Homo sapiens: one gene and its partner. The protein of the gene in region 1 purifies or fractionates together with the protein of each later gene. This does not show direct contact. Each region holds a gene or a part of one and is shown in the gene's direction. Other genes may lie near its edges.

Region 1 (3,826 bases):
TAAGGAAGGGATCCAGTTTCAGCTTTCTACATATGGCTAGCCAGTTTTCCCAGCACCATTTATTAAATAGGGAATCCTTTCCCCATTGATTGTTTTTCTCAGTCCTGTGCAAAATTTTAACACAGGTCACCTCAGGTGACAATAACAAGAAGAATGACATTAAAGCTGTTTCTTTTTCCAGGTGATTTTTATGGACTGTTAACAGATCACTTATGCTTACTATACTAGTAGACACCCCATGCAACTCCTAACATCCTGAATAATTGCAGTGATAAATTGATGTTATGTCAACCTAAAAAGCATGAAGCCAAGCAAAGGAGTTAATCTCTTATTTTTTCATTTGATCCAGTAAGGTGAAAACTGAGGTTTTTCAGTTTCCTTATGATTTGCCTGCTTCTCCAAGATTGTTTACAATACTTACTTCTTTATATAATTTTTCTTAATTTCTTTCCCTAGAAATTTCCCTATCAGGAAATCCTTTAAGTTTTCTGGGTTCTCATGTTCCTAATAACTGATCATAGTGCTCTTCTCTTTTATAGGAACAGGTGACGTGTCTGATGTTGGCCTAGGGAAGGGACGGTACTACAGTGTAAATGTGCCCATTCAGGATGGCATACAAGATGAAAAATATTACCAGATCTGTGAAAGGTATGGCAGTAACACTAGCCAGTAATAAGTGGATTGCAGTTCTGTAGGATGAAATGGCCCCCATCTCACAATGTAAACAAGAACAATGTAAAAAAGAAAACATCTATATACCTATAAAGCTTTTGTATACTGGTCATTATGCTTATTTGATCAGTAGCTATCCGCTGTATGGCAGAGCCAAGCAGTTGGACCAGAGCCATGCTCCAGGTTGGATCTTACTCAATATGATTAAGCCCATCCCAAGAGCAGAGCTTTTTTTGCTATCCTGAAGAATCCCTTATTTGCTACTTTCTTAGCTAAATAAACCTACATGTGTCTTATTTCATTAACCTGGCAGGGTTCATTTCAGTTGTCAGGGTTCATTATGGAGACCTGTGCTTTCTTCTACTGGTGTAAATATTAGAGAATTGACTATTATTATTCATCATGCATTCTTACCTTCTATCCACTGTGTTAAAATTGGAGTCAGATACCTGTTCTTTCTACACCATGGCTAAGGATTAAGTTACAGACAATCGTAGACAGACAGATTGGTGCCAATGTGTGGACCACTAGAGTTGAAAAGCCTTATGGAATGGGGGTGGGGGGTTGTGTTAAACTCATATTCATAAAAATTGAGATTGGTCAGGCACAAGTGGTGGCAGAGAAAGCAAATCCGAATAGAAGTCAGCCAGTCAACATTACTGAAGGTAAGTAACGGGGATTGAGGTACTCTTGATCCCTCCCCAACTTAGCTCGTATTTCTCCCAACCTCTGGTGGAGGTTCTTCCCAAAGAAGCCTGCCTGCACTGGCCATCATCACTGGCAGTTGTATAAACAAAGCAGAACTATTAAAAAATAAAAACTTTATGCTTCAAAAGTGCTTCTTAGCTCAAGAGATTTGGTGAGCCAAGTCATCATTCAGTTATTCAGCAGCATAAGCCTCTTCATAATTTTGATCATGTCTCCTGGCTACCTCTGTATTATCATGCTGAAAAAACTTTTTTTTTTTTTTTTTGGAGCCTGCCATCAATGGTTTAATTGCCCTTCTTTGTTCCCCTTAAGCTCTCTTCTGTCCTTGAGATGTGCAGATCAGAGCTGCTTATGTAACTTTACCAATAAAGATATCCTGCAGTTCTATGTAAAAGGAGAATTATTTTGTTTTTCTTTTAATCCCTTTCTTAACAGTGCCTGATTTTGTTACCCTTTTTTTTTTTTTTTTACCATAACAGAAAACTAGGTTGTTCTCTTCAGTGCACTGTCCACAGTGTCTCCTCGAGCCCTTTCCTGGGTCTTAATTGAAAGGTCAGCACTCATCATCCAGCAAGTATAGTTTGTAATATCTAGTGCTCCCTAGATGGATCACCCTAAATGGATCACCTTACATGTACCCCTTACAAAGCCCTAAATGGATCACTTTACATGTGCCCCTATTGAAGGTTATCTGCCAATCATAAAACCTCCTGAGATCTTCTTTATCTCCCATCAACTTGGCATTTCACTGCCTGGGAAAGCTGAGTATTATCTGTAGACTTGAGGATTTTCCAGTGCCCACCCCCAAGGAAGTCTATTTATCCTTCTTCAGTCAGAAAAAATATCTGTTTCTACCCTATATTTTCTCTTTTTTTTCTGTAGACCAGTTCCTACTACATGATAAAAAATATTTTAAATCCCATGGTAATTCATGTTTAAAAATAGCCTTGGTATCAAACCTAATCAGAAGCATTTTTAAAGTAAGTTTAGCCCCAAGGAAAAGATCTGTAGAAGATTACACATGATTTCGCTTTACAAAAAGCATGATGCCACCCACATCCCAATAGATTGATGGCTTTTGTGTACAGGAGGCTAGCATTTATTAAAAATTCTTCCAGCTTGCCTACTGAAGAACCAGACACTCATCAGTTTATAGTTCCCAGGGCCCCTTTGCCTGTGGACCCACATTGGCAATGCAAGCCACACAGTGATCATCCAGAATAACAGGTTCCAGGTTTTCATTAGAGGTATAATAATTTTTTTTCTTTGCTTTCCTTCAGAAGTCAAGTCTGGTCAGGGCATTATGTGAAGGCACCTCTGATTCCAAGGGTACCAAGGAGGCTTCCTGGCCCAAACATCTCTCCTATCTGTTGGATTAATACCTGAAATTCCTTTAACAGGAAACATACTTTTATTCTACAATTAGAAATAGTCCTTAAAACGAAATTTTGGCACAACCTCTCATCCTCACCCCTGCTGTACTATAGAAGTATAGTTTCACAGAACCTTTCTTTTTTGGGGTTGTGGACAGGGTCTTCCCCTGTTGCCCAGGCTGGAGTGCAATGGCATGATCACAGCTCACTGCAGCCTTGACCTCCTGGATCCAAGTGATCCCCTTGCTTCAGCTTCCCAAGTAGCTGGGGCAAACAGGCACACGATACCACATCTGGCTAATTTAAAAAAAAGAAACTTTTAGTAGAGATGAGGTGTAGCTTCACAGTGCCATTCTTGAGAATGAATTGTGAAAGGGTCAGAGCATGAGCTCCTTGAGTATTCTGAGGAGCAGGAATTGCCTAGTGGAGCAGTAGAGGGAAAGGGGTACCAAAAACCACAGCGATCTTTGCCAAGAGTTTTGCAGAGGGCCAGCCCTGGTAACTAGATCACTCAGTCCCAGGCATTATGCCTTTGAATACTTCTGGTATGTGGCTTGGAAACAGTCTCTTACACATTTGCCATTGTTACCTCTGACCCTTCTGCCTACCTCAAAAGATATATTACACAGAGGAATGGCTTAATCTTTTTGTAAAAAGTCATTTAGTTTATCTACTATCTTCTTTTCATCCTTTTATTTTATTTTATTTATTTATTTTTATTTTTTTGGAGATGGTGTCTCACTCTGTCGGCGATCTAGGCTCACTGCAAGCTCTGCCTTCCGGGTTCACGCCATTCTCCTGCCTCAGCCTCCCCAGTAGCTGGGACTACAGGCGCCTGCCACCACACCCGACTAATTTTTTTGTATTTTTAGTAGAGACGGGGTTTCACCGTGTTAGCCACTATGGTCTCGATCTCCTGACCTCGTGATCCACCCACCTCGGCCTCCCAAAGTGCTGGGATTACAGGCATGAGCCACCACGCCTAGCCCCTTTTCATCCTTTTTATTTCATGACCCCACTGGTTCTCTGGCTCACTCCTTACTTGTGATGTGTAAAGGACCTCTTATTGCTGG
Region 2 (3,826 bases), on another chromosome or scaffold:
GTGACACAATCAGGGCTCACTTGCAGTCTCAACCTGCTGGGCTCAAACCATTCTTCCACCTCAGCCTCCTGTGTATCTGGGACATAACGTGTGTGCCACCGTGCCTGGCTAATTTATTTTTTTTTTTTTACTTTTTGTAGAGATAGGGTTTCTCCATGTTGCCCAGGCTGGTCTTGAATTCCTGGGCTCAAGCAGTCCTCCCACCTCAGCCTCCCAAAGTGCTGGGATTACTGGCGTGAGCTGCCATGCCCAACAAGTTCAACTTTTTAAGACTCTGTATATAAGTGAGATCATGGGGTATTTGTCTTTCTGTGCCTGGTTTATTTTATTTAATACAATGTCCTCTAGGTTCATCCATGTTGTCACATTTGACAGAATTTCTTTTTTAAAGCTGAATAGTATTCCATTATGTTGTATATACCACATTTATATCCCATCCATCAATGGACACTTAGGATGATTCCATATCTTGGCTATTGTGAATAATGGTGTACCTAACATGAGAGTACAGATACCTCTTTGACATACTGAGTACATTCCCTTTGGATATATATCTGGTAGTGAGACTGTTGGGTGATATGGTAGTTTTATTTTTAATTGTATGAGGAACCTCCATACTGTTTTCCACAATGGCTATACTAATTTACATTGCTACCAACAGTGTGCAAAGGGTCCCTTTCTCCCTACATTCTAACACTTGTTGTCTTTCATCTTTTTTATAATAGCGATTCTAACAGGACATGCCATCTCGTGCTTTAATTTGCATTTTCTTGATTAGTGATGTTTTAATACACTTGTTGACCATTTGTATGTCTTCTTTTGAGAAATGTTTATTCAGATCCTTTGCCTATTTTTTAATTGGGTTCTTCTCTTGTTATTTTTTGAGTCCCCTATATATTTTGGATAGTAACCCCTTAAAAGATGTATGGTTTGGCAAATGTTATTTTAGATTTTACCCTCTTCTGTGAAGGCTCAGAAGGCTGACTGCCTTCAGACCCAGGAACAGAGACTTAAATGAGCACTGAGATTTGCTTCCCCAGAACAGTTTTATAGATAGAAAAGCACTTCTGGTCAGCAACTTAGAACTGTTCGTTTGTCGGGAACAGTTGTGTGAGTGGAAATTGCAATATCAGCTGTTATCAGCTCTAACTAGGTCTTGAAATTTGCATAATTTCAGCTCCAGTGTTACATGAAAGTTATGTGGTGTTTGGAAGGATGCCTTTTTCTTTGTTTTTTAGCAAAGGAGTCTTTTAAATCATTTGTATACAAAAGGAATTAGGATCCAAATGCTGTTATTGATACAGGTTTGATGCTTCAAATGTGGCTTTTCCCTCCCTTAGGGGTATAGAACAGGCTATGCTTACAGGCATCCTCTCATTCGAGAGAAGCCTAGGCACAAGAGTGATGTGGAAATCCCAGCAACTGTGACTGCTTTTTCCTTTGAAGACGATACAGTGCCACTCTCTCCTCTCAAATACATGGCACAGAGGCAACAGCGTGAAAAAACAAGATGGCTGAACTCACCAAATACTTACATGAAAGTGAATGTGCCTGAGGAGTCTCGGAACGGAGAAACCAGTCCCCGAACCAAAATCACGGTATGCCAGTATTTTATGTAGTTTGCCTTTACTAAATATTTTGCCTAGTTACTCAAGAATTGAATGTTCTATATTGAAAATATTTGGAAAGTAAAATAATATTAAAAATATTACTGTCACTTATCTGGCTTTAACTTTGTGCAAGACACTCTTCTAAGTGCCATACACGAATTTTCTCATTTAACTCTCCTAATATGAATGATGCTGTTTTTCTATTTTATAGATGAGAAAACCAAGGCAAGAAGGGTTAATTAATCATGTTTTAATGGTAAACTCGGGATTTGCATGAAGACAGTCTGACTCTTGAGCCCAGTTCTTGTCCACTACATGATACTGCTTTGTAGTTTCTATTAAACTACACCAGTAGTTTAATTCACCAGTGAATTAAAACTGTAAAAGTTATCAACTCCTAATTGTACCAAAGCTGCATGAATCACTGCACATAGCTACCCTTAGGCAAGATCTTGTAGGTAGAGAAATGGGTTATTTTATCTTTTTCAGAATTTTGCATTAGATTTGGTTTGGTTTGGTTTTGGAGTGCATACCACCAAACATTCTCTAGGTCAGTCTTGTCCAGTCCATGGCCCAGGATGGCTTTGGATGCAGCTCAACACAAATTTGTAAACTTTATTAAAACATTATGAGAATTTTTTGTGATTTTGTTAAACTAATCAGCTATCGTTAGTGTTGGTGTATTTTATATGTGGCCCAAGACAGTTCTTCCAATGTGGCCCAGGGAAGTCAAAAGATTGGACACCACAGTTCTAGATATTCAGAATTAGTTCATCTTATATAAACTAATGGCATTCAATATGAAAATACCTAGGCATCAAAATGTCTTTTCTGTAGTCTATAAGATTTCTTGCCTCCCAGTAAAAGAACATAATTAAACTCATTGGTTTCTCAGAATTCATTTTGTTTACAGAGATTGATGGTCAGCCATCATTAATCTTGATCGAGATTCGCTTTCTTTAAGGATTATAATATGGGGTAAATGAGAAGAATTATGTAAGCTCCTTCCAACCCCGTGGTTCTATTTTGCTATTATATACCAGATTATCCCCATTATAAAATGCCGATTAGGGCTTGGCCTTTTCTGTCAGCCAAAAATAAAAAGTGAAGTCTGATAAACTAAAATCTTAAGATATTTCTTAAGTTTTTTTTTTTTTTGATTACTCCTTTGCCATCTTCATCTGACTGCTGTCTTCAGTGCAGAAGACAAAACACTGAATGTGAGTGAATGTGAGATCATGCTCTCTGTGCTTGAAGTAGTTTCAGCATCATATTTTCACTTGACACAAGGAGAAAGTTTAATTAGCAGTATAATTGAATATTTATGTGAATCGTAATGGCATTTATTTTTTAAGTAAATGTTGATTTTGAGCCTTTTCTAACTAGTATGAGATGAAACTAATTCACCACTAAGATACTGCTTAGTGAAATTATTTAAACATTGGCAATGCCCCTCTTGAGACTATAAGCAGTTATCTAACAATCTACTAATATTTTCTTAACACAAAGCTTCATTTTAGAAAATTTTTGATTCTTTAGTGGATGAAAGCAGAAGACTCATCTAAAGTTAGTGGTGGAACACCTATCAAAATTGAAGATCCAAATCAGTTTGTTCCTTTAAACACAAACCCGAATGAGGTACTAGAAAAGAGAAATAAGGTAAGACATGGTCTTCTATAGCCAGGGGAGACATTTTAATTGCTTTATGTTTAAATCACCAGTGGTTGAATCTGGTTAATGCCAAACTTAGAAGTTTGAATACAGAAGAATTTGGAATTTAATTCAGTATAATTTTAGCTTATATTGAATGCCTCCAGCTCTGTGCTAGTAATTGGTGAACAGGCTACATGGGGAAGATGTATTGAACATTTTTCTGCGTTAGAGAACCCTGCTATTAGGGGGAAAATGCAGTTCTCTAACAACCTAAGACGAAAGGAAATAACTTGCCATAAAGAGCAGAGGAGACTAATATGAGTTGTTAGGATGGTAAAAGAGGTCTTTATGGAGGTGGGAATTGAAGAGACTCTCACTCTGGAAATGTCAAGTAGTAAGCTTTTATGAAAAGATAAAGCAAAGGTCATCTGCATAGTTGCCCTCAAGAACTTTATATTGAATTGTTTTTCAATTCAGATTCGGGAACAAAATCGATATGACTTGAAAACAGCAGGACCACAATCTCAGTTGCTTGCTGGAATTGTTGTGGATAAGCCACCTTC

The links.
Region 2: the proteins of HDAC8 (region 1) and ADD3 purify together in Homo sapiens (affinity purification with mass spectrometry; one large-scale study listed by BioGRID and IntAct). This does not show direct contact.

The regions. Positions count from the first base shown.
Region 1 is NC_000023.11:72,485,755-72,489,580, reverse strand, and holds part of HDAC8 (histone deacetylase 8), read left to right. Parts: intron 1-539; coding exon 540-648; intron 649-3,826. UniProt on the Homo sapiens protein: Histone deacetylase that catalyzes the deacetylation of lysine residues on the N-terminal part of the core histones (H2A, H2B, H3 and H4).
Region 2 is NC_000010.11:110,122,677-110,126,502, forward strand, and holds part of ADD3 (gamma-adducin), read left to right. Parts: intron 1-1,340; coding exon 1,341-1,598; intron 1,599-3,149; coding exon 3,150-3,269; intron 3,270-3,740; coding exon 3,741-3,826. UniProt on the Homo sapiens protein: Membrane-cytoskeleton-associated protein that promotes the assembly of the spectrin-actin network. Plays a role in actin filament capping. Binds to calmodulin.